Homo sapiens: one gene and its partners. The protein of the gene in region 1 purifies or fractionates together with the protein of each later gene. This does not show direct contact. Each region holds a gene or a part of one and is shown in the gene's direction. Other genes may lie near its edges. The genes, in order: HMGCS1, SEPTIN2, ERN1, NMD3, NFU1, SPDL1 and MVD.

Region 1 (3,962 bases):
TCCCTTAGTCTTTCTTTATGCCCCTGTCCCTGAATGTTGGTGATGACATTGTTTTTCCTGTATTGAATACAAAAATATGGCCAGTAATTTAGGAATCAAGAGGATATAATTCGGAAGTAGACTGTTGTGTTTAGGAGTTTTTCTTTCCATTGTGGAATTGAGTAGCAGCGGTATATATGCTATGTCTGGTAAAATGGGCCATACAGTAGTCTAAGACATGAGGAGACCTTAAGGAGCTTGGACTTAGTTGAGGTGACCAGACTATTTAATCTGCTTAGGTGCCACAGCAAAATACCATAGAGTAGGTGGTTTAAACAGCAGACATTTATGATCTCATAGGTTTGCAGTCTGGAAGTCAGGGTGCCAGCGTGGTTGGTTCCCGATCAGGGCTCTCCTCCTGGATTGCCCGTGTCCTCACATGGCATAGAGAGAGTATGACAGCATGAGCAAGCTCTCGTTTTATCTTCTTATAAGAGCACTGATCCCATCATGAGGGCCCCATTCTCATGACCTCATCTAAACCTGATTATTTTCCAAAGGCCCCATCTCCAAATGCCATCACATTGAGAGTTAAGGCTTCAACATATGAATTTGGTGGGGAAACCCAGACATTTCAATCCATAATTCAGGCAGATATTTGGGAAGTAACACAGTTGAAGCACTGAATGCTATATTTCGTACTATCTAAAGAATCTAGGATGTAATAAATTTAAGATGCTTCATTGCCAATTAAATTAAGATACAATGCTTTTTTGATTACTTAGAATTTTTTAAAGAGCTCTTTTAGAGTTAGACATAGATTTTTGTCATATGTCACTTGCACATTCAATAAGATGGAAAACACAAGTGAAAAAACACATAAGGAATTGCTAAATTTCACATATTTAGAGTCTGCCTTCTGAATTGTTTTTGGAGTCAGAGTTGTTAATACCTGTAATTTTCCGTTAAACATCCTCTGTGCCGCCAAGAGAATTGGTGATGTAGCATTCCTTTCAAGATCCCAAAAAAGAATGCGAAGGTTTTGGTGCTGGCCTTCAGCTTTGCAATTATGCAAAGCCAGCCTACTTTGACTGCTGCTTAGGGATTCCCCATCTTCTACTTCCTTCCCAGTCCATTTGGTTCCTAGAGGGTGAAATGAATGCTCCAGTATCATTTCTGGGAATTTCTTTCAGGCTGTTGACTGTCATATGCAAATGTCATGCTGGCAGTTTTGTTATTTTCCCATGTGTAAGCAATGACAACATCATAATTGGCTTCTGTCTGATAGCAATTGTAAGAGGAATCCCAATTTCTGAAATGTTACCCAAAAAAGTGACTTTAATTGACGAAGTATGATGATGTAGAAGGATAGGCAAGAAATGCAAAAGGTAATTTAGAAAGGTTTCATGGGTAAAATGTGACCTATGTGATCTAGGGCTATAAAGGATTTCAATAAGCAGAAGCACGAGGTGGGTTGTTGAAGAAAGCACTAAATGTTTTTGGATAAAGAATATAATAATTTGAGAGTAAAGGGTAGAGGGAGGGTTATGTAGGTAAGTAGTTGTAAGATGGGGAAAGATTGGGTAGTATTTAGCATTTATCCTTAATGTTGACTTCAGTGTAGTTCTCTTTGTGTGTTTTCTAGTATAAACTGCATACATGAAAGTTAAGAATCTTGTGTTAAGTCCCATATAGGAAGGAAGTAGATAGGAAAACCAAACTGGAAAAATGTATGGAGATGTTGGTGAAATGACAGGAACGAAAGCAGCTTGTCTGAGCTTGATCTCTTCACTTCCTCAGTGGTGGTTCTGAGCGCTGGTTTGGCTGAACTCCACTTACCAGGGAAAAGGGCATAAAGTAAACAGGGTTTGTGTGGAAGAAGTGGAGTAGAACAAAGTGGAGAGGATCTCTGTTCATTTAGTGTATCTGACAGTGTGCTTGTCAAGTCATAAAACACTTGAGGATGGAAATCTGGAAGTCATTGTATACATTTTCTTCTTTCCCTAACATCTAGTCAGTTACAGTTTCTGCCAGTTCTTTTGCTTTTTCCATGTTTTTGGAGGCTGTTCCTCTTCGCTCCACATGTAGTAAATGCTCTAGTTCATGACCCATGTCTTATCTGGACTGCCATGTCAGCTTCCTAACTCATCCATTCACAGCACCAGTGACTGTAAAACAGCATTAGTGAGGATAAAACAGTGGCTGTCAAACTTTTTTGACTGTGGCCCCCAGTAAAAATACACTTTGTATTGCAACTTATGTATACTTTATATATGTATGAATAATTAAAACAAAAGGTTGATTCAAGAAAAATCTTTACATTTACCCTGTGCCATGCAATCTTATATCTTGTATTCTTTTCTGTTTCATTTTTTTAAATGTGTGCTTGCCATCCACTAAATTGATTCCGGAGTTGGAAAAACACTGACCTGACAACTAATATCACCATGTTATTCCTTAAACTCTCCGATGGCTTCTTACTATCTTCATGATAAATTTGAAGCCCTCAACATCAGCATACCAGAACCTTCATGACCTAACCCTTACCTAGTTATTCTAATCTATTATTTACCTGATCCACTCAGCTCACATTTCATTCCAATAGACAAGTAAAGTTTTTTGTAATTCCTTGTAGCTTGCCTTTCTTCATGGTGTCCACTCTGTTGAAAATCTACTACCCTCCATTTCTTCAGTGCTTTACTGCTTACTCCTACCCATTCCTGGGGCTCAAGTCAGGCCCCTATAACCAGGATGCTTTTCCTAACACTCCTTGCCCTACCACCAGGCTGGGTTAGGTAGTTCTCCATTATATAATGTGGTTCTCAATGTTGTTACCTGTTTATTATTATGTGTTTTTCTCTTATTGTCCCATAAAATAGTGAATATTCGAGAGGATAAGGAAGTCTCCCATTAAGCATCCCTAATGTTTAGTATGTAACATGTTGGCATTGGTTGGATGAATGAGAAAAAAAAAAGATTCTTCTGTTTGGAAGGAAGATACAACTGGTATCCCTTAAGTCTTTTCTTTTTTTTTTTTTTTTTTCCTTTCTCTATAGACAAGGTCTCACCATCACCCAGGCTGGAGTGCAGTGGTGCAATCACAGCTCACTACACCCTTGTACTCCTGGGCTCAAGTGATCCTGCTACCTCAGCCTCCCTAGTAGCTGGGACTGCAGGCATGCACCACCATGCTCAGCTCATTTTAAAAAAATTTTTTTTGTTGAGACAGAGTCTTGCTATGTTGCCTAGGCTGGTCTTGAACTCCTGGGCTCAAGTGATCCTCCTGCCTCAGCCTCCCAGAGTGCTAGGATTATAGGCATGATCCACTGCACCTGGCCCCTTAAGACCTTTAATTGCAGAGCAGCAGAGGACAAATGACATAAATACAGGATTTGACTTTCATTTTTAAGTATCAAATTAGTGATGGGTTGACAAACAAGTCATACAGAATGTTCATGAATCAGTTCGGCCCAGGTAACTCATAACCCAAGACCTTTGGGTCAATGAAATTCTGCCACCTAAGTAGCACCATCCAATGATGTCATACCTAAAAAGGAAATTGAGTTGTAGAATTTTAGGTTTTAGGATTCTTTCTCTAAAACTGAGGAGCTGTGCCACTCTTCAAAGCCTCACAATTACATTTCATTGGTTCTTATGCCATCTGGGTTCTGGTTAGAGGGCTGATGGAAGTACTCAAGAAATATTGGAAGTACTCAAGAAATATTAGAAGGTGGGAAGAAGGTACCTCTCTTGTTCTTGTCAGTGGCAGCACCAACAGTGGGACTTTGGGTCTCTGGGTTCCAGCTCAGCAGCAGAGGTACTAGTACTGTAGCTCCAGCAGCTTCAGCAGGAGTGCAGGCTCATGGGATCAGAGAACCACCTTTTCCGCTTTGTTCTTCCAGCCCAGCCAACAAGTTTGTAGCTATTTCCCTGCATTAAAACTCCCCTCTGTTTGAAATATCTATAGTAATTTTTCTTTTCCT
Region 2 (3,962 bases), on another chromosome or scaffold:
TTAGCCGGGCATGGTGGCACACACCTATAATCCCAGCTACTCGGGAGGCTGAGTTGGGAGGAGCAGTTGAGCCTGGGAGGTGCAGTGAGCCATAATTGCACCACTGCACTTTATCCTGGGCAATAAAACAAGACCCTGTCTCAAAAAACAAACAAAAACTTTAGATGGAAAGGCCAGAGGCTTGTGTCGAGTTCTCCTTCAAAAGCATCACTCTGTACGTGAGGACAAACTTGTTGCCATTAGGAAACTGCAGCACCTGAGTTAAGGGTGAGGCCAGGATGAGTGGCATCCAAGCAGCCAGTGGCCGTTGAAGCAGCAGCTTCGATCCTCGCAAAGTCCTGCAGCCATCCTCACTCACCTTTTCTTTTTAACCATTCTAATATGTTTTTATATAAGTTTTCTGGGAGGCCAAGGCAAGTGGATCACTTGAACCCAGTAGTTTGAGACCGGCCCTGGCAACATAGGGAGACCTCGCCTCTATAAAAATTTTTTTTAAATTAGCCAGATGTGGTGGTGCATGCCTGTGGTCCCAGCTACTAGGGGGAGGATTCCTTGAGCCCAGTAGGTCCAGGCTGCAGTGAGCTATGGTCGCACCACCACGCTCCAGACTGGGCAACAGAGTGAGACCCTGTCTCAACAACAAAAGTTTCCTGTGTTGTAATTCATTAAAATTCTCACATTCTAATAATTTGATGGATTTCTAGATACATATGTTGTACACATTGAAGTCTAATTATGAGTTTGGAAATGAGACATTAAGAAAGATTTTAGAGGCAGCAAGAAAATTCCACCCTCTGGAAGCTGAGTAGGCGCTGGCCCTGAGATGGAGATTAGTGTGCTTTGCAGAGCACAGTTCTCAGGTGTGCTTGGGGAGCTTACCCTTTGCCCCTCGTTCACTCACGCAGATCCTGCTCCTTAAATGTGGTGACTACATTCGCATTAATAAAGAATAACATCTCAAAGCAAATTCTTCAGATAATACCTATTTTTGAGTGGGTAACAGCAAGTGTTGTCGCTCAAGCTTAGAGTAAGAAAAGTCTCTTGAATGTTCCATTTCATGTTGTTCGAACTTTTTAAAATCATTCTGTTCCCTTTTTATTCATTATATCTTTAATTAGAAAAATGATAGGCTGGGCGTGGTGGCTCATGCCTGTATTCCCAGCACTTTGGGAGGCCAAGGTGGGCGGATCACTTGAGGTTCAACACCAGCCTGGCCAACGTGGCAAAACCCCATCTCTACTAAACACAAAAAAAATTAGCTGGGCGTGGTAGCACGTGCCTGTAATGCCAGTTACCCAGGAGGCTAAGGTGGGAGAATTGCTTGAACCTAGGAGGTGGAGGTTGCAGTGAGCCAAGATCATGCCACTACACTCCAGCCCGTGCGACAGAGTGAGACACCATCTCAATATAAAAAGAGAAATGATAAATACATGTCATTTTAAATTTTAAAGTAGAATTTTTTGGGGGGGTAGCAAATAACTATTTGTTGCAGTGTTATGATTCTGATTTCTTTCGATTCTTAGGAAAGTGGAGAATGAGGACATGAATAAAGACCAGATCTTGCTGGAAAAAGAAGCTGAGGTAAGTAGGAAAGTACTATTGGTTGGTTGGTTGGTTGGTTGTTTTGTTTGTTTTGAGACAGAGTTTTGCACCATTGCCCAGGCTGGAGTGCAGTGGCGTGATCTCGGCTCACTGCAACCTCTGCCTCCCGGGTTCAAGTGATTCTCCTGCCTCAGCCTCCCGAGTAGCTGGGACTACAGGTGCCCGCCACCATGCCTGGCTAGTTGTTTTTGTATTTTTAGTAGAGACGGGGTTTCATCATGTTGGCCAGGCTGGTCTCGAACTCCTAACCTCAGGTGATCTGCCCACCTTGGCCTCCCAAAGTGCTGGGATTACAGGTGTGAGCCACCGTGCCCAGCCAAAAAGTACTATTCTTGTGACTGAAGGTGTTTTGTTTACATCCGTAGATATCATTGGTAATTAACTTAAAGTTTATAGTTTTTTTTTTAATTTGTTGAGGAGGATACATATAACTACTTTATTACTATATATACACATCTATATATAATAATAAACATGGATATTTACATAGCATACATGATGCTTCATATATTTAGCTGAAAGACTTTGGAGACAATTTAGTAATGTCACTGATATTTGTAAGTAGATCATAAATATGGAAATATGCTCTGTTGTAAAGGTGGCATTCAGATCTGCTGGAGTTTTGGAAGGCAAACACATTATTCAGTAAACAATAGGATCATAATGGGCTAGCCTTTTGGAAACAAAAAGAAAATACTTCTTTGGTCAAATTAATTCAATATTGATCAAATATTTAAATGTTAAAAATAACCACAAAGTCACCTGAAGAAAATTTAAATGTTTTATAATACTTTCCTGGAGGCATTTCTGAACACATACAAATCATAATGATAAGGATAAAGATGAATTAACATTTACTATTTTTGGCCAGGCACTGTGGGTTACACTTATAGTCCCAGCACTTTAGGAGGCCAAGGTGGGAGAATCACTTCATGCCAGGAGTTTAAGACCAGCTAGGGCAACAGAGTGAGACCCCCCTCGTTCTCTAGAAAAAAATTAAAAAATAATTAGCCATGCATGTCGGCATGCACCTGTAGTCCCAGCTACTCGGGAGGCTGAGGCAGAAGGATCCCCTGAGCCCAGGAGTTCAAGGATGCAGTGAGCTATGATTGTGCCACTGCAGTCTAGCCTAGGTGAAAGAGCAAGATCCCATCCCTTTAAAAAAAAAAAAATATATATATATGTATATGTATGTATATATATTATTTTTATTGTGAGGCCTTCATTGCCCTCCAGAAAAGCTGATTCATTCCCATTCCCCTTTACTTTGCATTTCTCACTGTCATCAGTCTCTTTCCCTCCTTTTAGGTTAGAAAACTTCTCATATTGGCCGGGCGCGGTGGCTCACGCTTGTAATCCCAGCACTTTGGGAGGCGGAGGCGGGTGGATCACGAGGTCAGGAGTTTGAGACCAGCCTGACCAATGTGGTGAAACCCCGTCTCTACTGAAAATACAAAAATCAGCTGGGCGTGGTGGTGTGTGCCTGTAATCCCAGCTACTCAGGAGGCTGAGGCAGGAGAATCGCTTGAACCCGGGAGGCGGAGGTAGCAGTGAGCCGAGATTGCGCCACTGCACTCCAGCCTAGGAGACAGAGTGAGACTCTGTCTTAAGAAAATTTATCATATTGTCTTATCTTTCTTTGGTTATTGTTTCTGTTTGGCTTGCATATTCGTATCATTTACTTGATTTTCTCTTTAGCTGTTGCTTTTTTTATTGATTGGTAAAAAGTCTTTATGTAATAACTCCTGTCATATTTTGGGAAGGTGTAGAAGTTGAAATTTTAGGAATCACAGAACACCCAGAAATAATGTTCAAAGACAGCAAACCTTGAAAACCTATAATGTGTGTGTGTGTTCACAGCTCCGCCGCATGCAAGAGATGATTGCAAGGATGCAGGCGCAGATGCAGATGCAGATGCAGGGCGGGGATGGCGATGGCGGGGCTCTCGGGCACCACGTGTAAGGTGATGTGCACATATCAAGAAGTCAGAGGTAGGCCCTGTTGTCCCTTAGCCTGGAAGACAGGCAGTTACTAACATTGTGTCAGCTTAAATATGACAGGTTCCTCCTTAAGCCTCATTAATATTTTGCATTTTGAAGTAACTCCATCACTAATCTTAAACAAGGAGAGATTGCTCCTGAAAAACAGAAGCCACTACTTTGCCACCTACTTTCTAGTAAAGATTTTTCATATTTTTGTCTCTTCTTTTTTTTTTAAATAATTTCAACTTTTATTTTATTGGGGTACATTTGCAGGTTATTTTCTAAGCTTGCAAATACCAACATTAGAAGGAAATTATGTATTAAAGCACTTTTATTAGTTGTATTATTGGAAATTTGTTAATTGTTAAAACATCTCTT
Region 3 (3,962 bases), on another chromosome or scaffold:
AGACCCAGAGAGCTCTGGGAGTCAGGGGCGAGCTCCAGCTGTGGTGGCCATGTTCCTCCTGTCCCGAATCCAGCACCTTCCTAAGGGAAAATCCAGTGAGGTAGAATAAAGCATGGTAGGTTTGGAGATTGGAAGACCTGAGTCCCATCCTGGTTTATCACATCCAGCAGTGACCCTGAGCTTGTCATGCAACCTTTCTGTCCACGTTCTCATCTGGGGATGAAAGCATTTGCTCTGCTCGCCTCACAAGGTTGTTGTGAGGCTGAATGAGAGTGCTGTGTTGTTCAAGGTGTGTCTCCTCCAGCATGGGAGGTGATGAGCCCCTGCTTCCTCACACTAGACCCTCACTTCACCTGGTGGAGAATCTCAGAGGCAGGGCCTACTAACAGGGACCCAAGCTGTGCTCAGGAACCACCTTGGTATTACACCCCAGGTAGCATGAGCTAAAAAACACAAACGTACATTTCCCTCGAAGGAAGCTATTCTGTAGACACAGAATGGTTTCATGGGATAAGTGAGAGGCTTTCTCGGATTAACATCAAACATGACCTCCTTGGTAACTTGTCAGATAGTTTCTTTCTAGGGCTGTTTTTGAATCATAAGCTGTTTTATTCACTTATTAGCAATTTTGATACCTACTGTGTGCAGGCACCATTCTGGGCCCTGGGGGTACAGCAGGGAAGCAACGACACAGAGACCCTGTCTGTGAGCACTTTCGTGTTGGGGGTAAGGAATATATAACAGCCAGGAGGGCTTTTGATGGGCCAAGCACTGTCGTAAGCAACCATTTTTGCATATTAATGCATCTCTTTTGACAACAGCCCCATGCTGTCAGTGTCCTCATCTCACATGAGAGGGAACCAGGGGCTTCCAGGTGGCTCCAAGCCCAGGTTCTCCACTGGGACCTCTGACACCCATGCAGTGCTGCAGGTTAGCCCTCGCTGCTCTGTGCAGCTCACATATGTCAGCTGATTCTCCCAGGACACCTTCTAGGTGGCAGAAGCAGCAGCAATGCTCCTCCCTCCCTGACTGTGAGTGAGGATGAAAACTCTGCTCCCAGACCTCTCACGCCTCATGTCTCTTTTCAGACCTACACGGTGGACATCTTTTCTGCAGGCTGCGTCTTTTACTACGTAATCTCTGAGGGCAGCCACCCTTTTGGCAAGTCCCTGCAGCGGCAGGCCAACATCCTCCTGGGTGCCTGCAGCCTTGACTGCTTGCACCCAGAGAAGCACGGTGAGCGGTCCAGGGGTTGGGGTTGGGAGCAGCTCCTCAGCTGCCTCAGGTGGCCCTGCAGAGCTGGGCTGGTGCCACCTTTGCACTCACAGAGGCCGTGGTGCCCCAGCTGCTCACCCCGCAGGCCTCAGGACCTCCAGACTTGTGCCAAATCTGGTAGAGGGTTGGTAGGGTTATCTCTGGGGCGCCACCTTCTAAAGCTGAGATGCTCCAAGGTTCCTCCAGGTCACCAACTACTTGTGTGACCTAGGCAAAGCCCCCTTTGGAGACCTTCTTTTTCTACCTGGTGACATGAGGGTTGAATAATCAGAGGTCCCTTCCTGCACTGGCATTTGGGAAGACAAATTGTCTTCTCTCTTGGGATGGCGAGTGGTCAGTAGGTGCAGTCTGTGCTGGGCTGGGGACAGACAAGCTTTATCCTCACCCTCCTGGTCTCCTGGTATGGGTGCAACAAGTCTTTCTTCCAGACTTCAGGTTTTCCTGGGTGGTAATTGGCCCATGACACTCCAGTGCTGCCTTTTGAAAAAATTACAACTAAATTATTGTTTTGTTTATGCTTAATTTTTCTTATTATAGAAAACACAGATTAGCATAAAGGCCCATATATTCCCATTATACAGGGATGAATGATGGCTATTGATACCTTTGCATATACGTTATTCCAGTCATTTATCTAGACGTGATTGCATATTTTATAAAAATACAGTTAAATCCTGCATACTGTTTTGCAGCATGCACGTTTTTCAGCGTCACCTTGAATCTCTCTCCACGTCAATCCATATTTAGTCACAGCCGCACTTTAACAGCTCATGGCCCAGCGTAGGGAGGCACCGTAGTGTATCCACTTGGGCCTCTGATACTGGATGTTTACAGTCACTTCCTTCACAAACCATGCAGTGAGGACTCACCTCTTTGGCTGAGGTTTTGTGTCTGTTCCTAATTATTTTATTGGAATAAATTCCTGTAAATAGAATCATAAATGAGAGGGTGTGCAGCTTTTTAAAGTTTTTGGTATTTCACTGTGGCTTTGGACTGGTAGTCATGAGTTGCTTATTTTCCTCCTTTATAGAAGACGTCATTGCACGTGAATTGATAGAGAAGATGATTGCGATGGATCCTCAGAAACGCCCCTCAGCGAAGCATGTGCTCAAACACCCGTTCTTCTGGAGCCTAGAGAAGCAGCTCCAGTTCTTCCAGGTAGAGACGTCTGTTCTCTTTATCCAGAGTCTTCATTTAATGTTTTTCAGATTTTGAAAATACAGAAAAGGACAAAGAATAAAATAAATTGCCCATTACCCTAAAACTGGAAGATAATCATGGCTGATGTTTTAATGTTTTCTTCATATATAAAAGTATAATTGGGATCTAACCGTATATACAGTTTCAGAATCCCTTTTTTTAACTGTACATGATATTTTAAGTTTCTTTCATGTTAAAGTTCTAAAATTCCAATGACCATAGTATTCTATCATATGGATGTGCCATAATGGTTAAGCTTTATATTATGGAATTTCCAAATATATAATACATAAATGTTTAAATGCTATAATGAGCACTCCTTTATTCATCCCTCAGGTTCAATAAATATTAACCTTCACCCTCTCCCCACCCCAGGTTATTTCGAAGTAAATCTCAGGCATCATATAATTTCATTCAAGTGTCATAAGCTTATTTATTTATTTTTATTTTTTTTGAGACAGCGTTTCACTCCGTTACCCAGGCTGGAGTACAGTGGTGCAATCTTGGCTCACTGCAACCTCTGCCTCCCGGGTTCAAGTGATTCTCCTGCCTCAGCTTCCTGAGTAGCTGGGATTACAGATATGCACCACCACGCCTGCCTAAGTTTTTTTGTATTTTTAGTAGAGATGGGGTTTCACCATGTTGGCCAGGCTGGTCTTGAACTCCGGACCTCAGGTGATCTGCCCGCCTCAGCCTCCCAAAGTGCTGGGATTACAGGCATGAGCCACCAGGCCCAGCCCAAGTGTCATAAATTTCAGTGCTTTCTTATATTGTATTTGTTTCTATCATCTTTTACACAGTCTTGGCCCAGATCTCCTTTTGCTTAAAATAGGTTCTGCAAAGTTAGAACTCCTTTGGTGATTTGACTGTTTTAAAGCTTTGTGACAATGTCAGGTGACTTTTGAAGAGGTAATGTGTTTTTCAAAGTCTTCCATGTATGAATTGAACATAACTCACCCGAACGCCTCCTGCCCAGCACGTGGCTCTGAAAGCAGGCTTGTGGGGCAGTGCTTTTCCCCTTGGGTCCAGGCAGAGTGCAGCTTGGTGGGCACCGTACTGAGAAGTGACCATCATGCTCTCCTGGGGTCTGACTGGGGCCTTGGCCAGAGGGAAGCCCCCAGAATGTAAGCTCCTCGAGGACAGGAGTGCTTGACTGCTGCATTCACTACTGTGTCCCTGCCTCCTAGGGAGGACGCTGCCTGGCCCAACCATTCAGATGGATCGGGTTGGGAAGAGTTTAATGCTGTCTTCCATGTTGTAGCATATGGATTGGTCACTGTGTCCATGGACATAATGTGAAAATTCTCAAGTCCATATGTCTTCCAGGGACTTGTGAAAACTAACCAGGTCATTTTGATCGCAAAATATAGAACAGGAATAAAACCCACACAAAGGGACCTTCACCCACCAAGGGACAGGATTTAAATGCTTAGTATCTCCAGGTCATATGTCTCTCGAACACACCTGGCTTCCACTCAGGTCATTTA
Region 4 (3,962 bases), on another chromosome or scaffold:
TACAATGGTGTGATCTCGGCTCACTGCAACCTCTGCCTCCCGGGTTCACACGATTCTCCTGCCTCAGCCTCCCAAGTAGCTGGGATTATAGGCGCACACCACCACATCTGGCTAATTTTTTGTATTTTTAGTAGAGACAGGGTTTCACTATGTTGGCCAGATTGGTCTCGAACTCCTGACCTCGTGATCTGCCTGCCTCGGCCTCCCAAAGTGCTGGGATTACAGGCGTGAGCCACCATGCTGGCCTCGAAAGTAACTATTAAATGTTACTATTGTTGCCAGTAGCACCCCACTACAAACACTTTTTAAAGTTATATATATTCTTTTTATGAAAAGTAAAAATATCTTTTTGCTTTAAAAAGACAGAATTTAATTTTTTTCCTTTGTTATTTATCGAGAATCTCATGTATAATTTTTTAACGGAAATTTTTATGTAAAACCATCACTAAACATAATTGGGATTATAATATTAGGGCTATGTTATTTGGTTTCTTTTTATTGTCATTATTGATCTGGAAATAAAATATTTGTGCCTGTCACTGAAAGTCAGTGCATAAATGTATTAAAAAAAATAGTTTGTTTAAAGTACAGTTTATTTCCTGATATAAAATTGAAAGTGATTGACACTATGAGTTTTCTTTATTTTAAGCTTTATGACTCACTTCTACCATGTTTTTAATTGAAATTGACTCTTTCAGATTGAAGACTTTTCTGATTCTCCTTTAAGCTCTAATAAAATTTCATGTAATAGTTCTTTGAAATTTCTGCCTTTATTTTCCTACTAGGTCCCAGCCAACCCCACAAATTTCTGATGGTCACTTTTTGGCGCTTCTGGCATAAAACTTTGTCTTTTTCCCTTCATATTTTAAAAAACCTTTTTGGTTTTTTTCGCTCCCCTCTGTTCTTGGTGATTTTTACTTTATCTTCTAATCTTTCTAATGAATTGTTTTTTTCCAGTAGTAATGTTTTTAAGTTCCAGAGTCTTTCATGTTCTTGATGCATTTTTTTTAAGTTTTTCTGAAGATTTTGATAATAGGACTTTTTTTGTTTCTTTCTGTTCCCTCATTTGTCTCTGTTTTTTTATGAAGTCAGTTTTTTGTGTGTCTTGGTTTTTTGCTTTTATACTTGGGGTTTTTGTCAAATGTCTAGTGAGTCTTAACAGTTCATTAATTAATTCATCAGATGTTTATTAAGTACCAACTCTGTGCCAAACTGCTTTTGGTGTTGGGGATATGGCAGTGAATAAGGCAATCCCTGTCTTAGAAAGCGTGTATTCTAATTGCACACTAACATGCCAGTGTGGAGCAGCATGTTAGTATGCAGCGATCAAAATAGGTGGATATATTACATGGTATATTAAAAGGTATATTCTGTGGAGAAAGGAGCTAGGAAGAGGATAAGAACTGTGCATGGAAGAGTTGAAATTTAAAGTAAGGGTGTTTAGGGGAGGGCTCACTGATAGGGTGACATTTGAGTAAACACTAAAGATTACAGTAAGGGAGGAAGCTGTGCAGAAATGTGGAGGAAGAGCATTAGGGGTAAAGAAAACAAATGTAGAGACCAAAAGCAAGAGCATACTTGTGTGAATAGAACGGAGTGGTGAGGGGAAAAGTAGTTGGGGATAGAGTCCAGAAAAGTCATGGAAGGCCACAGTGTGTCTGGCCTTGTAGGCCCTTATAGGGGCTGTTTCTTACTCTGAGTGTAAGGAGTATAGAGGGTGAAGGGCAGAGTAGTGAGATGACATGACTTATTAGTATTCCTCTGGCTGCTGTTTTTAGAATGGTTGTAAGGGAGGTAAAGGTGTTTAAGTTTTTGTAATAATCATGAGAAATGGTTTTGGATCAGCAATGGAGGTGGTAAGAAGTGGACAGATTTTGGATCTATTTTTAAGGTAGTAACATTTACTGATGTAGCTGGATGTGTTTTTGTAAGAGACAGAAGAGTTAAGGATGCCTTCCACTGTTCGTGACCTGAGCAGCCAAGTCACTGGGTAGGGGGCATGAGAGTTCATCTGTAACTGGTATTTAGATGTCTACTAGACACTTAAGTAGAAATACTGAGTAGGCAGGTTGATAAATAAGCCAATGAGTGGTCCAGTCTAGAGATAATGAATTTAGGATATAGATAGTATTTAAGGTCATGAATTGGATTAGATTATTTCAGGAGTTTACATAGAGAAGGAAAGAAACTGGAGGACTGAATCCTGGAATCATTCCTTTAATGGGTAATGATGAAGAAATAATTGGGTAATGAGGAGGAATCAGCAAAGGAGACTGAAAGGAGCTGCTAGGAGGTAGGAGGAAAACAGGGTGAGTGTGATGTCCTGGGAGGAAAGGGAAGTGTTTTAAGAAGAAAGGAGTGAGTAGCTATGTGATTTGCAGCTGATGAGTCAAGTAATGAGTTCTGTAGATTTAGTAATGTGGACGACCTTAATAACATGGGCAATTTCTGTTTAGTGGTGGTGGTAAAGATGTCATTTAAATAGAAATTAAAATGGGAGAAGGAAGATAGACAGTTCTTTTGAGATTTGCTGTAAACGAAAACAAAGAAATGGGGCAGTGGTTGAAGGGGAAGTTGGGGAAGGGACACTTGTCTTTTTATGTTATTTTATTTTTTGGAGATAAGGTCTTGCTTTATTGCTCAGGCTAGAGTGCAGTGGCGCTGTCATGTCTCACTGCAGCCTCAAACTCCTGGGCTCAGGTGATCCTTCTGCCTCAGCCTCCTAAGTAGTTGGTACTACAAACATGCACCACCACACCTGGCTGATTTTTATTTTTACTAGAGGTGAGATCTCTCTCTTTCTCTCTCTTTTTGGCCCTGTAGAGCAGAGATCTCACAATATACCCAGACTGGTGTTGAACTCCTGAGCTCAAGCGATCCTCCTGCCTCAGCTTCCCAAAGTGTTGGGATTACAAGCATGAGCCACTGTGCTTGGCCAGGATACATTTCTTAAGATGGTATATATAACTGTATTTGTAAGCTCTCTGGGAGTGTTAGAGTACGGAGGGAAATTTTTGTGAAATTGCAGGGAGAAGAATAATTGGCTGGGGGGTGGCCTCAATAAGTGGAAAAGAGATATAGTACATAGTGAAAGAATACATTTATTTGTTAATTCACTCCTTCATTCAACAAGTATTCAGCACTTACTCTTCACCAAGCACCATTTTGGGAGGCTGTAATATTTCATGGAACAAAGTAAAGATCTCTGCTCTCTAGAGGGGCATTCTGGAGGTTGATCTTGATGGGAGTATGGATAATTCATCTGTGGTAACAGCAGGGAAGGTGTTGAGTGGGAGCTTCTGGGAATTCTCCTCTGGTTCCTTCTTTTGTACTGGAGAAAACAGAAGCGTGGGCAGTAGCTATGTGGGAAGAGCTGTTAGATAGATGTTTGAGGAGAGAGCGGAAGATATGAAATAGTCCTCTAGAACTAGAGGAAATGCACCAGGACAGTGTTGGATGGGTGCTGGGCAGTGCTGAGGGTTACTGTTACAAGTTTAGACTAGTCACTGTGGTGTGCATCTATTTCTGTAGTTCTGTCAGCCACATAGTCAAGGCATAGAGCAGGCAGAGCACTGGATTTAACCAAATTTATAATTTAGCCTAGTGGCTAAGGTGAAATAAGAGAGGGAACAAGGAAATTGAGTGTGTACATGAGAATAATTTTGATTATTGATTTTGAAGCTAGTGAGGAGGAATGAGGAATAAAGTTGGTAGGATGAATGGATTGTCCATTATATTAGCTTGAAAGATATTTGGTGCCCAGGAACTAGAGGAAATAAGCTGGAAAGATGGGAGGTGGTAGTCAGGGAGTAGGATGTTTGGAATTGATAGTTTGGAGGGTTTGCAGTTACTGGTAATAGAGGCATATGAGTGACTGAGATAGGAAGGTGGATAATATTTTGGGAGAAGAAGAACTCAAAGAATGGAGTGAGAGGTCAGGGTATTGTGGGGATCACCTGTGT
Region 5 (4,272 bases), on another chromosome or scaffold:
GAGACGGGGTCTTGCTATGTTGCCCAAGTTGGTCTTGAATTCCTGGCCTCAGGTGATCCTCCCAAAATGCTGGGATTAAGGATTAACACAACTGGCCTAATCTATGTATTCTTAAATATGCAAGCAAGAAGCCCATTAAGAAATCATAGTTTGTTGTTATACTGAGTAGAATTCTAGAGCTTTACGTGTAGCACAATATCAACATTTTTTTTTTTGCCAACATACCTAAGGAGTATAACACAGCACCTTGTCATCAGTAATAATGAGTCTCACTGCAGTGATTCTCAACCAAAAAGCATGGCCTTATGGAGAGAGATTATCAAGGAGTGAAGGGATGTGTGGAAATTAGAAATTTCCAACCCACAGAATTTCAGGTAATTCATTCTTTTTTTTTTTTTTTTTGGAGACAGAATCTTGTTCTGTTGCCCAGGCTGGAGTGCAGTGACACGCTATCTCGGCTCACTGCAACCTCCACCTCCCAGGTTGAAGCAGTTCCCATCCCTCAGCCTCATGAGTAGCTGGGATTACAGGCACATGCCACCATTTTTTGTATTTTGTATTTTAGTAGAGACGGGGTTTCATCATGTTGCCCAGGCTGATTTCAAACTCCTGAGCTCAGGCAATTTGCCCGCCTCGGCCTCCCAGAGTGCTAGGATTACAGGCATGAGCCACCGTGCCTGACCACCTCAGGTAATTCTGTGCCCTTAAGGGCTCCATTGGGAATCACTCATCCTTGGGTAGTATTAAAATTCATCTGTTCCACAGTGAGCAGGTCTATATAGACCTATCCCCAAAGTCTTAGGGAGCTGAGAGGCTGAAGACAGAGGCTGGCAAATCCAGTTGGTCAGAAAGAAACATTTAATAGGGACTGAGGAACAGAAGCCATTTATCGGGCAGCTGCAAGATGATGGATTCCTGCATTGTTACCCGCTAGACTCAGGGCTTATATACCAGGAGGAATGGGTATACATGCTTCAGAAGATATGTGTAGGACAATTGAAGTCAGCCCCTCTGGAAAAGGCAAGAATGCTATTTGCCTAATAGCCTATAATTTGCTTAAGGGCAAGATTTATGCTAAGTATGTGTTTGTTTAGGATAACATCAAGATTATTTTGACCTAAAGGCAGAATTAAGTAGAAAACTTAGAGGCATTCCTAGAACTGAGGGTAGTCAATGTGGCAGATTAGCATCCAAGATGGAGTTGCTTTAGCCTCCACACCATCGTTTTGGTCCAGTACATGACATCTTCTCTTTGAAGTTTTTATCCATCCCCCACTTGGAATTAAGTTCTTCTTTGACAGGTCCAAAGCTTCTGTTTTTGCTTTATGTTTATGTAGCTTTCTGTATCTGTTTTAGCTTTATGTTTACGTGGAAGCTCCCTAAGAGACTTGAAATCATATCCAAGTCTTTGTGTTCCTCTGCAACAACTAGCTGTGTGCCTTACAAATGTCCTATACATGCTTTGTATTAAGTATTTGGGAATATTATTCCAAATTAAGGAATAATTCTGCCTAAAATATGAGTTGGTTGACAAAATTTTTTGGATTGGGTATTGTTGAAATTGGATGTAAAATATTAATTTCTTGGGAATAAATACCAATTTTTACTCAACCAAAAAGACAGCCTATGAAAGAATTCTTTTTCTATTGATTGTCTCAGATCAGAGCCAGAATCTGGATTTTTTTTTTTTTTTTTTTTGAGACGTAGTTTCACTCTTGTTGCCCAGGCTGGAGTACAATGGCTTGATCTTGGCTCACTGCAGCCTCCACCTCCCGAGTTCAAATGATTCTCCTGCCTTAGCTTCCCAGGTAGCTGGGATTACAGGCGCGCGCCACCACGCCTGGCTAATTTTTATATTTTTAGTAGAGATGGGGGTTTCGCCATGTTGACCGGGCTGGTCTTGAACTCTTGACCTCAGGTGATCCACCTGCCTCAGCCTCCCAAAGTGCTGGGATTACAGGCATGAGCCACTGTGCCTGGCCTAGATTTTTTTTAAAAAAAAAAACCTTACTTTGTTCCATTATCATCTATATGCCTTAAAAAATTATGTTAGTTGATACTTTGGTGGATTGACTGAGGAACATTTTTATTCAATTGTCCAGGGTAGGGTGATGAATTGGCCTTCAGATTAGAAACTTGAATTGGCATCTAATTGTAGTAGGTGTGGTGAGGAGAAAAAAACATTCTTAGGTTTATGTAACTTTTTCCTTCTCCAATGGAGTTAGTCTGTTATCTTAGTAATACATTAACTCATGGAAAGATAATAGCTGTTGTAACATTTTCCTGAGGCTTAAAATGATCTTTTATCTCAGTAAGACTAAAATAATTAGTTCCTAATATGGTGGGGTTTTTTTGTTTTGTTTTGTTTTTCACTTTCCTTGGGGATTCATTTTAATAAAAATAAATGTTTTTAAAATAACAATTTGGTATAGCTTCACAGAATATATTTAAGTAAATAAGATGGTTTTGAAAAAAAGAAAAAGTCATTTACATTAGTCTTATGGCTAGAGAATACCAGTTAAATTGTTTTTTTTTTTTTGAGACGGAGTCTTGCTCTATCACCAAGCTGGAGTGCTCTATCACCAGGCACTAGGCTCACTGCAACCTCCACCTCCCCAGTTCATGCCATTCTCCTGCCTTAGTCTCCCGGGTACCTGGGACTACAGGCGCCCACCACCACGACCGGCTAATTTTTTGTATTTTTAGTAGAGACGGGGTTTCACTGTGTTAGCCAGGATGGTCTTGATCTTCTGCCCTCATGATCTGCCTGCCTCAGCCTCCCAAAGTGCTGGGATTACAGGCGTGAGCCACCGCGCCTGGCCCCAGTTAATTATTTATAGTCTTTTCTGCCCAGCTGAGACTCTGCTATGGGTAGCCTCTTTGAGACAAGGAGAAGTGATCAATGCTTTAATTAATTTCCAAATATTTAATTTGCTTTTATTTTATTTTATTTTTTTTTTGAGACAGAGTCTCGCTGTGTTGCCCACGCTGGAGTGCAGTGGCGCGATCTCGGCTCACTGCAAGCTCTGCTTCCCAGGTTCACGCCATCCTCCTGCCTCAGCCTCCCGAGTAGCTGGGACTACAGGCGCCCGCCTGGCTAATTTTTTGTATTTTCAGTAGAGATGGGGTTGCTTTTATGTTTTTAGGATACCGGGTTATGATTCAAACCTTGTTCTTTGGGGCTGTTGATAGATTTATTCTTACTGGCTTGTCATGCCTCATTATAGAGTGTATCAGGTAAAGAAGTAATATTAAAATCAGGAAAACAGCAAAATCTAATCATTTTCTTAATTCTTAAATTGTCTTTGTTTTTTGGTTTTAGGTTATGGATGATGAATCAGATGAAAAAGAAGCAAACTCACCTTAAAATAATCTGGATTTTCTTTGGGCATAACAGTCAGACTTGTTGATAATATATATCAAGTTTTTATTATTAATATGCTGAGGAACTTGAAGATTAATAAAATATGCTCTTCAGAGAATGATATATAAATATTGCATGTTTGCTTTACCTCATATGAGTTATTTATAACCTCTTGAATCATCTTCTGTACACGTGGATTTTATCCAAGGATATTTTTATTTTTGTCCCTCATTTCCCATGGCTCTTTCTTTGCATATGTGTGAAGGAGTTTAAAATACATTTCCCCCCATCTAATTTATTTACTTTTTTCCATACAGGAAGAAACAGAATGCTTTTTAGAATATTCTAAAATAGCTTTTTGTGAAATATCTAAAACTATTTTTACTGAAGTTTTTAGCTTAAGAAACAGCTAAACAAGTCTGTTTTAAAAATGGTATCTGGCTACTAGCCCCCAATTAAGTAGCAAAGAACTGCTTAAGACCAAAAAAAAGAAATCAAAAATGTCCGGGTATGGTGGCTAACGCCTATAATCCCAGCACTTTGGGAGGCCGAGGTGGGCAGATCACGAGGTCAGGAGTTTGAGACCAGCCTGAACAACATGGTGAAACCCCGTCTCCACTAAAAATACAAAAATTAGCCGGGCGCGGAGGCACGCGCCTGTAATCCCAGCTACTTAGGAGGCTGAGGCAGGAGAACTGCTTGAACCCGGGAGGCGGAGGTGGCAGTGAGCTGAGATCACGCCACTGCACTCCAGCCTGGGGGACGGAGCGAGACTCCATCTCAAAAAAAAAAAAAAAAAAAAAAAAAAAAAAGGTGAAAAACTTGAAAACTAACTCCCAGAATCTGGACACAGTTTCTATTGGTTAAGATGGAGATGGCCAAATTAGAAAAACTGCCTCAGCATGCCC
Region 6 (3,962 bases), about 130 Mb from region 1:
GTAAAGGGACAGAAAAGAAAAATCTTTTTCCTCACTTACTCATTCATTTATATCAGTATAGCCTCATGGATTCTTATTTTATCCTATGAGTTATAATCCATTGCTTGCTTTATTTACTCTGATACTCAAATTGTCCCAGATTTGATAGTCGAAGTGCTCTTACTTGAATATTTCCTTACTCTATGGCACAACAAGGGTTTCCTAGCTCACCTGGCCCACTTCTGGGATTAGCATTTCTTCAAGGAACATTGGTTTATTTTAGTTGAGAATGGTATTTGTGTAAGCATTTGTGTGTGTGTGTGTGTGTGTGTGTGTGTGTGTGTAAGAATTCACCCATGTTTTCTAAATAAGTAGGCAGTTGTCCCAGAGTCATTTGTTAAAAAATCAATCTTGATCCCAGTGATTTGAGTTGACACCTTTATCATACATCAAGTTTCCATATATACTTGAGTCTGTTTCTAAATTTTCTGTCTACGCCATTGGTCTGCTTCTCTGTGTGTCTGTACCACACTGTTTTATTAATTATAAAGGCTTTTAAGTATGTTTATCTGGTAGGACTATTTCCTCACTATACTTTTTATTTTTCAGTATTTTCCTGTCTATTTTTGAATGTTAGCTTTCATTTACAAACATCTTGTCTAGCACCAAAAAAAGCTTGTTGGCTTTCTATTAAAATTGCATGCAATTTAAGATTTTATAAATTGACTTAGGGAACATTGATATCTTCATTAACCTCCTAATGAACTAAAGTTCTAAATGACAAATTTTTGTAAATGTTAATAACCTCTTAGGCATTCTAAATTGTAGCCATTAGTATGTCATAAAATCTTAATTAAGTTTACATAACTTTATTTCTGTGTCTTATAAAAACTGTTGAAAGAACTACAAATTTGGTTAAGTTGGCAGCCTTATGTTTCCATCAGTGGGCTCAGAACTATACTCTGAAAATTATGGCCTTAAATCAGGGGAATTTTATTTATAACCTGAAATTGTTTCAAGTTTTTAAGCAGATTTACCTTTTCTATCCCACTAGAGAAATGTATAGTTTCCATCAGTCTCAGAAGAGCTTGCACTACATTCTTGCCTGGGGTGGGGGGAAGAATCTCAGAAGAGGGGGACACCAGATATAAATGTAAGGCTCTCATCTTCCTTTCATATTTTTCCAGTTTATGGTTTTGTTACAAAGGCCAGAATTTAATCCAGCAGGCATTTGTTTTTCTATTTTCAAAGCCAGGAGAGAGAAGGCAGAGCATGTAGGTAAGGCTAGAAGCCTAGGCCTTGTAGTCAGATTTGGGTTCAGGTTCTCTCTTCTTGGTTTACTTTCATCTGTATTCGGAGCCTGTTTCCTTATCTGTAAGAGAGGAATGTTAATTATTTACCTACTTCAGAAGGCAGATAAATTAAATGGGTAGTTCTTAGCGTAGTACGCCAAGGGATATAAATTCAGGAAGTGATGGTGCTATTATTAATAAACATACACTAACCTTATTTGTTATTTATTTTAAGTAATACAAACTTTTGCTTTTTTAAGAATTTATATGACAGTATGGAATCTAAGCCTTCAGTCGACTCTGGTACTCTGGAAGATAACACCTATTATACAGATTTACTTCAGATGAAGCTGGATAACTTAAAGTAAGTGTCTGGGTTGGTGGATGGAAAGATGAACATGTCACTTGCTTACTATGGTAGTGTCAGTGACTACAAAGTTTTTTTGAAATTGCCAAAGGAAATTTTCCGAAAAGAAAGGTAACAAAAATATCTTTGTGCAGATATTCATGTGTGAATACATTTGAAAGACTATTTCCTCCTTTGTCCATTTCCTTTCAAGAATGCATGAGTATTTTTTAAATTTAACACTACTATTGTTAAGGATTATTTAAATTGTTTATTGTTTCTTTGTTACTAAAAACCCCAGAAAAATGTATTTTTAACTAAGAATTCAAATATGCGATGAAATATTTATACCACTACACTTATTATATGCTGTCTTAATACTCGTTGGTTCTCCTTTTTTATTATCATAGCAAAGAAATTGAAAGCACTAAAGGTGAATTGTCCATACAGCGAATGAAAGCATTATTTGAGAGCCAGCGGGCTCTAGATATTGAGCGAAAACTTTTTGCAAATGAAAGATGCCTCCAGCTTTCAGAAAGTGAAAATATGAAACTGAGAGCTAAACTAGATGAATTGAAACTAAAATATGAACCTGAAGGTATATATGTCTCATATATTTTTGTCTTTTAAATTATGAGTAACCTGAAATTATATCAAATTATTTTCTTACTGTAGTTTTATGCAACTCTATTACAAACTCATTTGTAGTTATATACCTATAGTTAATAAAGCAAATTTATTGTGTAAAATAGGTAGGAAAATTCAGGGAGAACTGGATACTGGGTGTGCCTGAATATAACATGTATCCTTTTTGGATATCTAATTTCATCATACTGTATAGTAGAAACTTGAGATTTGAGACTTTCCCATTTTAAGATTACAGTATTTTATGTCATACCTAATAGTTTAATTATGTTGAAGCAGCTGATGTTTGGAAGCTATACGAGGTAGGACTGTTTATAGAAAATCTAAAGTAATGGAGACTTTAAAAAGGTGGGTCTTTATCTCTGCCTCTGATGGAAGTCTGGAGGAGGCCTTCCAGGACTGGGAAAGCACTCCACGGTATCAAGATTCAGGCTTCTTGTGTTTGTTGGTCTGCTGCCATCCTGTGGAGCAGAATTTAGTCATGCAGCCTCACCTGCTGACAGGAAGGGCTGAGAAATGCAGTCTTGATTCTCAGGGGCCATGTTCCTAACTAAATATTGGGAATTCTTTTATTAAGGAAGAACAGTGAGCCAGGCGTGGTGGCTCGTGCCTGTAATCCCAGCTCTTGGGGAGGCAGAGGGAGGAGGATAGCTGTGCCCAGGAATTTGAGATTTGCTTGGGCAATATAGCAAGACCCCATTCTCCACCAAAATGGGGGGGAAAGGAAAGAACAATGAAACATATTAGGGAATATCTAGCAAGTCTAATGACTGAGCTGGAAAGTAGCCTAACCATACAGTCTCTGCATCTTATATACTACAGAGAGTGAAGTTTACTGTATGTAAATTCAAAAACAAAAGGCCAAGTGTGAAGGAGTCTAAGAATGTGATGGTTCTACAACACCCCTTCCCTAAAAGAGTGTTACATGTTTTAGGTTAAGGATTCTCAACAAGTTTTTGTCCCCGCACTCTGCACATGCCTCAGTCTCTCTTCGTATTGTCTCAGTGAACTGCTATGATTCTCAACAATAGTGGGGAGGTTGCCAAAAATAGGAAGGTTTTTACACAATTTTAAAAGGCTTCTCTTGCTCTTAACTCTTTTTGTTTCTTCCATGATTCTAATAGGCTCCCCTGATTAAGAATTATCCATTATGAATTTCAAACATCTGTTGAACTGAACACAGCAAATAGACAGGAGGCAGGGTAGTGAATCCTGATAATGTGGGTTTCAAAGGAGCAGTGCCAGAAAAAGGGGAAATCATGGTCTAAAAGCAACAATGTAGAGCAAAAACAGCAACCCCTTGTGCTACCAGTGTTCCTCAGACTCCACTAACATTTTGATTTTGAAAATGAAACACATCGATAATGGGCATAGGGAAAAGATATTAGAGCAGTTAATTCAGTGGCTGTGTTTATGACCTGTTTAGATAGAATGATATTAGGCCATGAGGATAGAAGGCATTGCAGTAGTCTTTGATGAGACATGATAGGATTGGACTAGGGAAGTATCCATCATAAAAGTAGTCTGATTCTGCTTATATTTTGTAGGTAGAGCTAACAGGCATATATTACCAATATTCAGAAAGTTTGGCCTATTCTTGTCATTTAATCCTTCTAATACACAATACCAAGTGAAGTGGGTGCTTTTAATCCCCATTTTACAGATAAAATGAAGCTCAGAGAGGTTAAATAATTCCCCAA
Region 7 (3,962 bases), on another chromosome or scaffold:
TGCTTCGGCCTCCCAAAGTGCTGGGATCGTAGGTGTGAGCCACTGAGGCTCACCAACAGTGATATTTATGGAAACGTGTCCATTTTCTTGTAACGTTCAGAGACTCTGGTCTTCTTTAAACCTTACGTTTGAGCTGGTTTTTGATAGCGCGCTGGTGGAGGAGGGGGTGCTGGCTCAAGATAAGGAGGCAGAAGTCCAGGTTCCCCTCCCCACCAACGCTGTCCCATCCCCACCAGGCCCTCAGGAATTCCTGAGTGTCTGCTTGGCCTCTGACAAGAGCCGGCAGGTCAGGGGAGTCCAGTCTCCCGTGTGCTCTCCAATGACTCCTGGGGAGGTGAAAGTCCCCACTCCTTCAGGGAGGGAAAGGGGGCGGGGCACTGTTCCAGCCTGGAGTGTGGGAGGGATCTGTTTCTTTTTTTCTTTTCTTTTTTTTTTTTTTTGAGAAAGGGTCTCCCTCTGTTGCCAGGCTGGAGTAAGGCTGGAGTGCAGTGGTGCCATCTCGGCTCAGTGCAACCTCCGCCTCCCAGGTTCAAGCGATTTTCCCGCCTCAGCCTCCTGAGTAGCTGGGATAACAGGCGTGCGTCACTACAGCCTGGCTAATTTTTGTATTTTTAGTAGAGATGGGGTTTCACCATATTGGTCAGGTTGGTCTCAAACTCCCGACCTCAGGTGATCTGCCCACCTCGACCTCCCAAAGTGCTGGGATTACAGGCGTGAGCCACCGCGCCCGGCCAGGAGTCTGTTTCTGTGTTGCTAGGCTGCCCTTCCTGGTCCTGCTAGGGAGGGCTGGCTTTGGTTGGCAGTTCCAGCTTCTGCAGGGCTAGGTCTAGGGCAAGCAGAAAAGAAAGCCCCGGGCTCCCCCTGCACTGTCCCACAGCCGCCCTCTGTCACCCGTGAGAGTCTCACCTGTGATGTCCAGGGTCTCAGTTGTCCCCAGTGGGAGGAAGCGGGAGAAGTCCCCTGGCCCACCTTCCTGAAAGCAGAGGTTCGCCCGGCCTGTCAGGGCAGCGGCGTCCGCCTGCAAGGGGGGCCGCTCAGTGCTGTGCGTGAAAGAGCCTCGCGAGCTGCAGGGCGTGGTTCTCTGCCAGGTGTCCGCGTTTATCACCCCTGGAACTGTCCGCCATCCTCAGAGACCTCCCCTCGCACAAAACCGAGCAGATGGTGTGCTTAGCGAAGCCGCCGTGGAATAAGACTTCAGCTGAAGCACCACGCAGCGCTCCCAGGGCAAACGTTTCCTTTCGGGCTTTCTGGAAGTTTGATTTCACGTGCTGTCCCATGGCCGTGCTGGGCAGAAAGGGGTTTATCCTGGATGTTCCTGGGGCATATGAGCAGTGAGATGTGAGGAGTTCTCAGAGCTGGGCTCCTTTTGTTTGGGAAGGTGGAGGGGAGGCAGGCCGCGGTGGGAGCGATCCGCACCTGGGCACTCACGGATGCTGGAGTAGAAGCGATGAAGGAATGGGGAGCGGGGACGGAGGTTGGCTGGCCTCCAGCTCTGCTCTGGGAGCCTGAGCTCAGTGGGGTGGGAGCAGTTCTTGCAGGCCGGGGTCTGGCAGGAGGAGGGGCACACAGGTTGTGCGGTGAGAGACGGGACTGAGGCGGATGGGGGCCGTGGGTGGGGGGTGGGGGCACCTGTGGGGAACACTGGGGGAGGGTGGGCCGGGAAGCCCACCGGCCTGGCCCTGGCTGTTCATTACAGGGGGCAAGCGCGATGAAGAGCTGGTTCTGCCCATCAACTCCTCCCTGAGCGTCACTCTGCACCAGGACCAGGTATGTGTGGACTGACGACTAAACACCACAGTGCCATTTCCAGAACATTTGTAGAACAGTTGGTACCCGTTGGGTATGGTGGCTCACATCTGCAATCCCAGCACTTGGGGAGAGTCTCTTGAGCCCAGGCATTGGAGACCACAGTGAACCATGATCGCACCACTGCACTCCAGCCTGGGTGACAGAGTGAGACCCTGTCTCTGAAACAAAAAAAAAATTGGTACTTTTTTACCTAAAGGCTAGGATGAGATGGCCTAGCGACGACTCCCAGCCAGCACGCAGTGTCTGTTCCATCTCCCAGTATTAGGAGAGCTGAGCACAGCACACATGTGCCCCCAGGTCTCGTCACACATGCGCACACCGTGCCCCAGGGGCTCCCCTGGGAGTCCCCGTCTCTTTATTCAGGATAAGGCCTGGTTGCTCCACAAGGTGTGGCCCACGCTTTCATCCCCCACGGGCTTCCCCACTGCCCAGCTGAGACTGGCCTTTCCCCCCCTGCCCTCAGCAGGGCTGACCTTGCTCGAGTGGGCAGCCATGAGGCTCTCTCAGTAGAAAGGGGTACCTGGCTGGCATCGGTCCTCAATGCTGGCCTCTGAGGTGGCCCTGGGTTTCCTTTTCAGTTAAAAACCACCACAACAGCCGTCATCAGCAAGGACTTCACCGAGGACCGGATTTGGCTGAATGGCCGGGAGGAGGATGTGGGGCAGCCGCGGCTGCAGGCCTGCCTGCGGGAGAGTGAGCTGGGGTCCCCATAAGCCCATCCCTCCCTGTTGTCAGCAGGGTCCGAGCATCCAGAAAGTGCTTCTGCCTCTGTGCCCCTCCTGAGGCAGCAGGCGGGGTGGCTGGGAACCAGACATGCCCGCTGGGCCGCCAGCTCCAGGGCAGTGGCCCACCTCAATGACCAGCTGGGCTTGGGTCAGTCTGGGGTTTTCCCGGGTAAGAAACTCTCCACGAGGAGTCTGGCAGGCAGAGGCCTGGTGTTCAGCTGTGACCCCGGGCAGGTGGGCAGGAGCAGGGCGGGCAGGGTGCTGACGGCTGGGCCACACGCTGTCTCATTGTCTCTGCAGTCCGCTGCCTGGCCCGGAAGCGGAGGAACTCACGGGATGGGGACCCGCTGCCCTCCAGCCTCAGCTGCAAGGTGCACGTGGCATCGGTGAACAACTTCCCCACGGCTGCGGGCCTGGCCTCCTCAGCGGCGGGCTATGCCTGCCTAGGTGGGTGCCCACAGAGACCCGCAGGGGTTCTGGGCTGTGGGCGCAGGAGCCACTTCATGCTCTTCCCGGGTCAGGGAGCCCACTGCTGGGCGTGGCTAAAAGAGCATCCCCTCACCCCAGGCCTCCCTGGCCTCTCTGGAGTTGTTCAGTCTCTTCCCAGAGCACATCTGAACATTTTCATCTTCCAGTTGCAGCTGGCGTGGGGCTCTCGCCTGTAATCCCAGTACTTAAGAGGCTGATGGGGGAGAAGCACTGTAGGCCAGGAGTTCAAGACCAGCCTGGGCAACATAGTGAGACCCCCCCCCATCTCTACAAAAAATAAAAAAATCTTCCCGTTGCTGTATGTGGAGCCCCTCTAGATTGTCAGTGATAGAAACCACTTCAAACTGGCTCAGCCCTAAAATAGCGATGATTTTGTGGCTCACGTAACTGAGGATTCCAATGGGCACAGCTGGTTGCAGGCCCCGCTGGACCCAGCTCTCTGCTGGCCCCAGGCCACTTGCTGGCAGCTTCCCACCCACTGTCAGAGCCTGTCCCCCCGGTGGTGGTCTCACACCATCTTCACCCCTCAACTCCAGGGGTGACGCTTCCTGGCCCACCTGGGCTCCTGCGCCTTCCCTGAACCACCCTCGGTGACCAGGGTGGGTGACCAGACCTGGAGGTGGGGTTGCCCTGCTGGAGCCCTGTGGGAGGAGGGGAGAAGGTGGCTCCCGTGCTGGGTGGGCAGGGGGCGCGTCTTGTGGAGTCCAGCTCTGTCCTGGCATCGGTCCCTGCCCCACACAGCCTTAAAATTCCTTCCCACCCTCAAAGCCCAGCTTGGGTGTCCTCGGGGGCCTTTCTCCCGCCTTCCATGGGGCTTCCTGCTCTGCCGCAGGTACCTTTTGTTGCCCTTGTCGCGGGCCGCAAGCTCTGCAGGCCGTGAACAGAGAGTGTCCGAGAGTGGAACTAGCGGAGGTGGGGGACAGACGGCTGGGCCGGTGA

The links.
Region 2: the proteins of HMGCS1 (region 1) and SEPTIN2 fractionate together in Homo sapiens (co-fractionation; one large-scale study listed by BioGRID). This does not show direct contact.
Region 3: the proteins of HMGCS1 (region 1) and ERN1 purify together in Homo sapiens (affinity purification with mass spectrometry; one large-scale study listed by BioGRID and IntAct). This does not show direct contact.
Region 4: the proteins of HMGCS1 (region 1) and NMD3 fractionate together in Homo sapiens (co-fractionation; one large-scale study listed by BioGRID). This does not show direct contact.
Region 5: the proteins of HMGCS1 (region 1) and NFU1 fractionate together in Homo sapiens (co-fractionation; one large-scale study listed by BioGRID). This does not show direct contact.
Region 6: the proteins of HMGCS1 (region 1) and SPDL1 fractionate together in Homo sapiens (co-fractionation; one large-scale study listed by BioGRID). This does not show direct contact.
Region 7: the proteins of HMGCS1 (region 1) and MVD fractionate together in Homo sapiens (co-fractionation; one large-scale study listed by BioGRID). This does not show direct contact.

What each region holds. Positions count from the first base shown.
Region 1 is NC_000005.10:43,299,863-43,303,824, reverse strand, and holds part of HMGCS1 (hydroxymethylglutaryl-CoA synthase, cytoplasmic), read left to right. Parts: intron 1-3,962. UniProt on the Homo sapiens protein: Catalyzes the condensation of acetyl-CoA with acetoacetyl-CoA to form HMG-CoA, which is converted by HMG-CoA reductase (HMGCR) into mevalonate, a precursor for cholesterol synthesis.
Region 2 is NC_000002.12:241,346,611-241,350,572, forward strand, and holds part of SEPTIN2 (septin-2), read left to right. Parts: intron 1-1,523; coding exon 1,524-1,581; intron 1,582-3,462; coding exon 3,463-3,564; 3' UTR 3,565-3,593; intron 3,594-3,962.
Region 3 is NC_000017.11:64,046,329-64,050,290, reverse strand, and holds part of ERN1 (serine/threonine-protein kinase/endoribonuclease IRE1 precursor), read left to right. Parts: intron 1-1,088; coding exon 1,089-1,236; intron 1,237-2,305; coding exon 2,306-2,433; intron 2,434-3,962. UniProt on the Homo sapiens protein: Serine/threonine-protein kinase and endoribonuclease that acts as a key sensor for the endoplasmic reticulum unfolded protein response (UPR).
Region 4 is NC_000003.12:161,227,500-161,231,461, forward strand, and holds part of NMD3 (60S ribosomal export protein NMD3), read left to right. Parts: intron 1-3,962. UniProt on the Homo sapiens protein: Acts as an adapter for the XPO1/CRM1-mediated export of the 60S ribosomal subunit.
Region 5 is NC_000002.12:69,395,341-69,399,612, reverse strand, and holds the end of NFU1 (NFU1 iron-sulfur cluster scaffold homolog, mitochondrial), read left to right. Parts: intron 1-3,322; coding exon 3,323-3,367; 3' UTR 3,368-3,487; downstream 3,488-4,272. UniProt on the Homo sapiens protein: Iron-sulfur cluster scaffold protein which can assemble [4Fe-4S] clusters and deliver them to target proteins.
Region 6 is NC_000005.10:169,596,945-169,600,906, forward strand, and holds part of SPDL1 (protein Spindly), read left to right. Parts: intron 1-1,531; coding exon 1,532-1,635; intron 1,636-2,027; coding exon 2,028-2,215; intron 2,216-3,962. UniProt on the Homo sapiens protein: Required for the localization of dynein and dynactin to the mitotic kintochore.
Region 7 is NC_000016.10:88,656,455-88,660,416, reverse strand, and holds part of MVD (diphosphomevalonate decarboxylase), read left to right. Parts: intron 1-1,696; coding exon 1,697-1,767; intron 1,768-2,387; coding exon 2,388-2,502; intron 2,503-2,834; coding exon 2,835-2,981; intron 2,982-3,169; coding exon of another isoform or gene 3,170-3,271; intron 3,272-3,962. UniProt on the Homo sapiens protein: Catalyzes the ATP dependent decarboxylation of (R)-5-diphosphomevalonate to form isopentenyl diphosphate (IPP).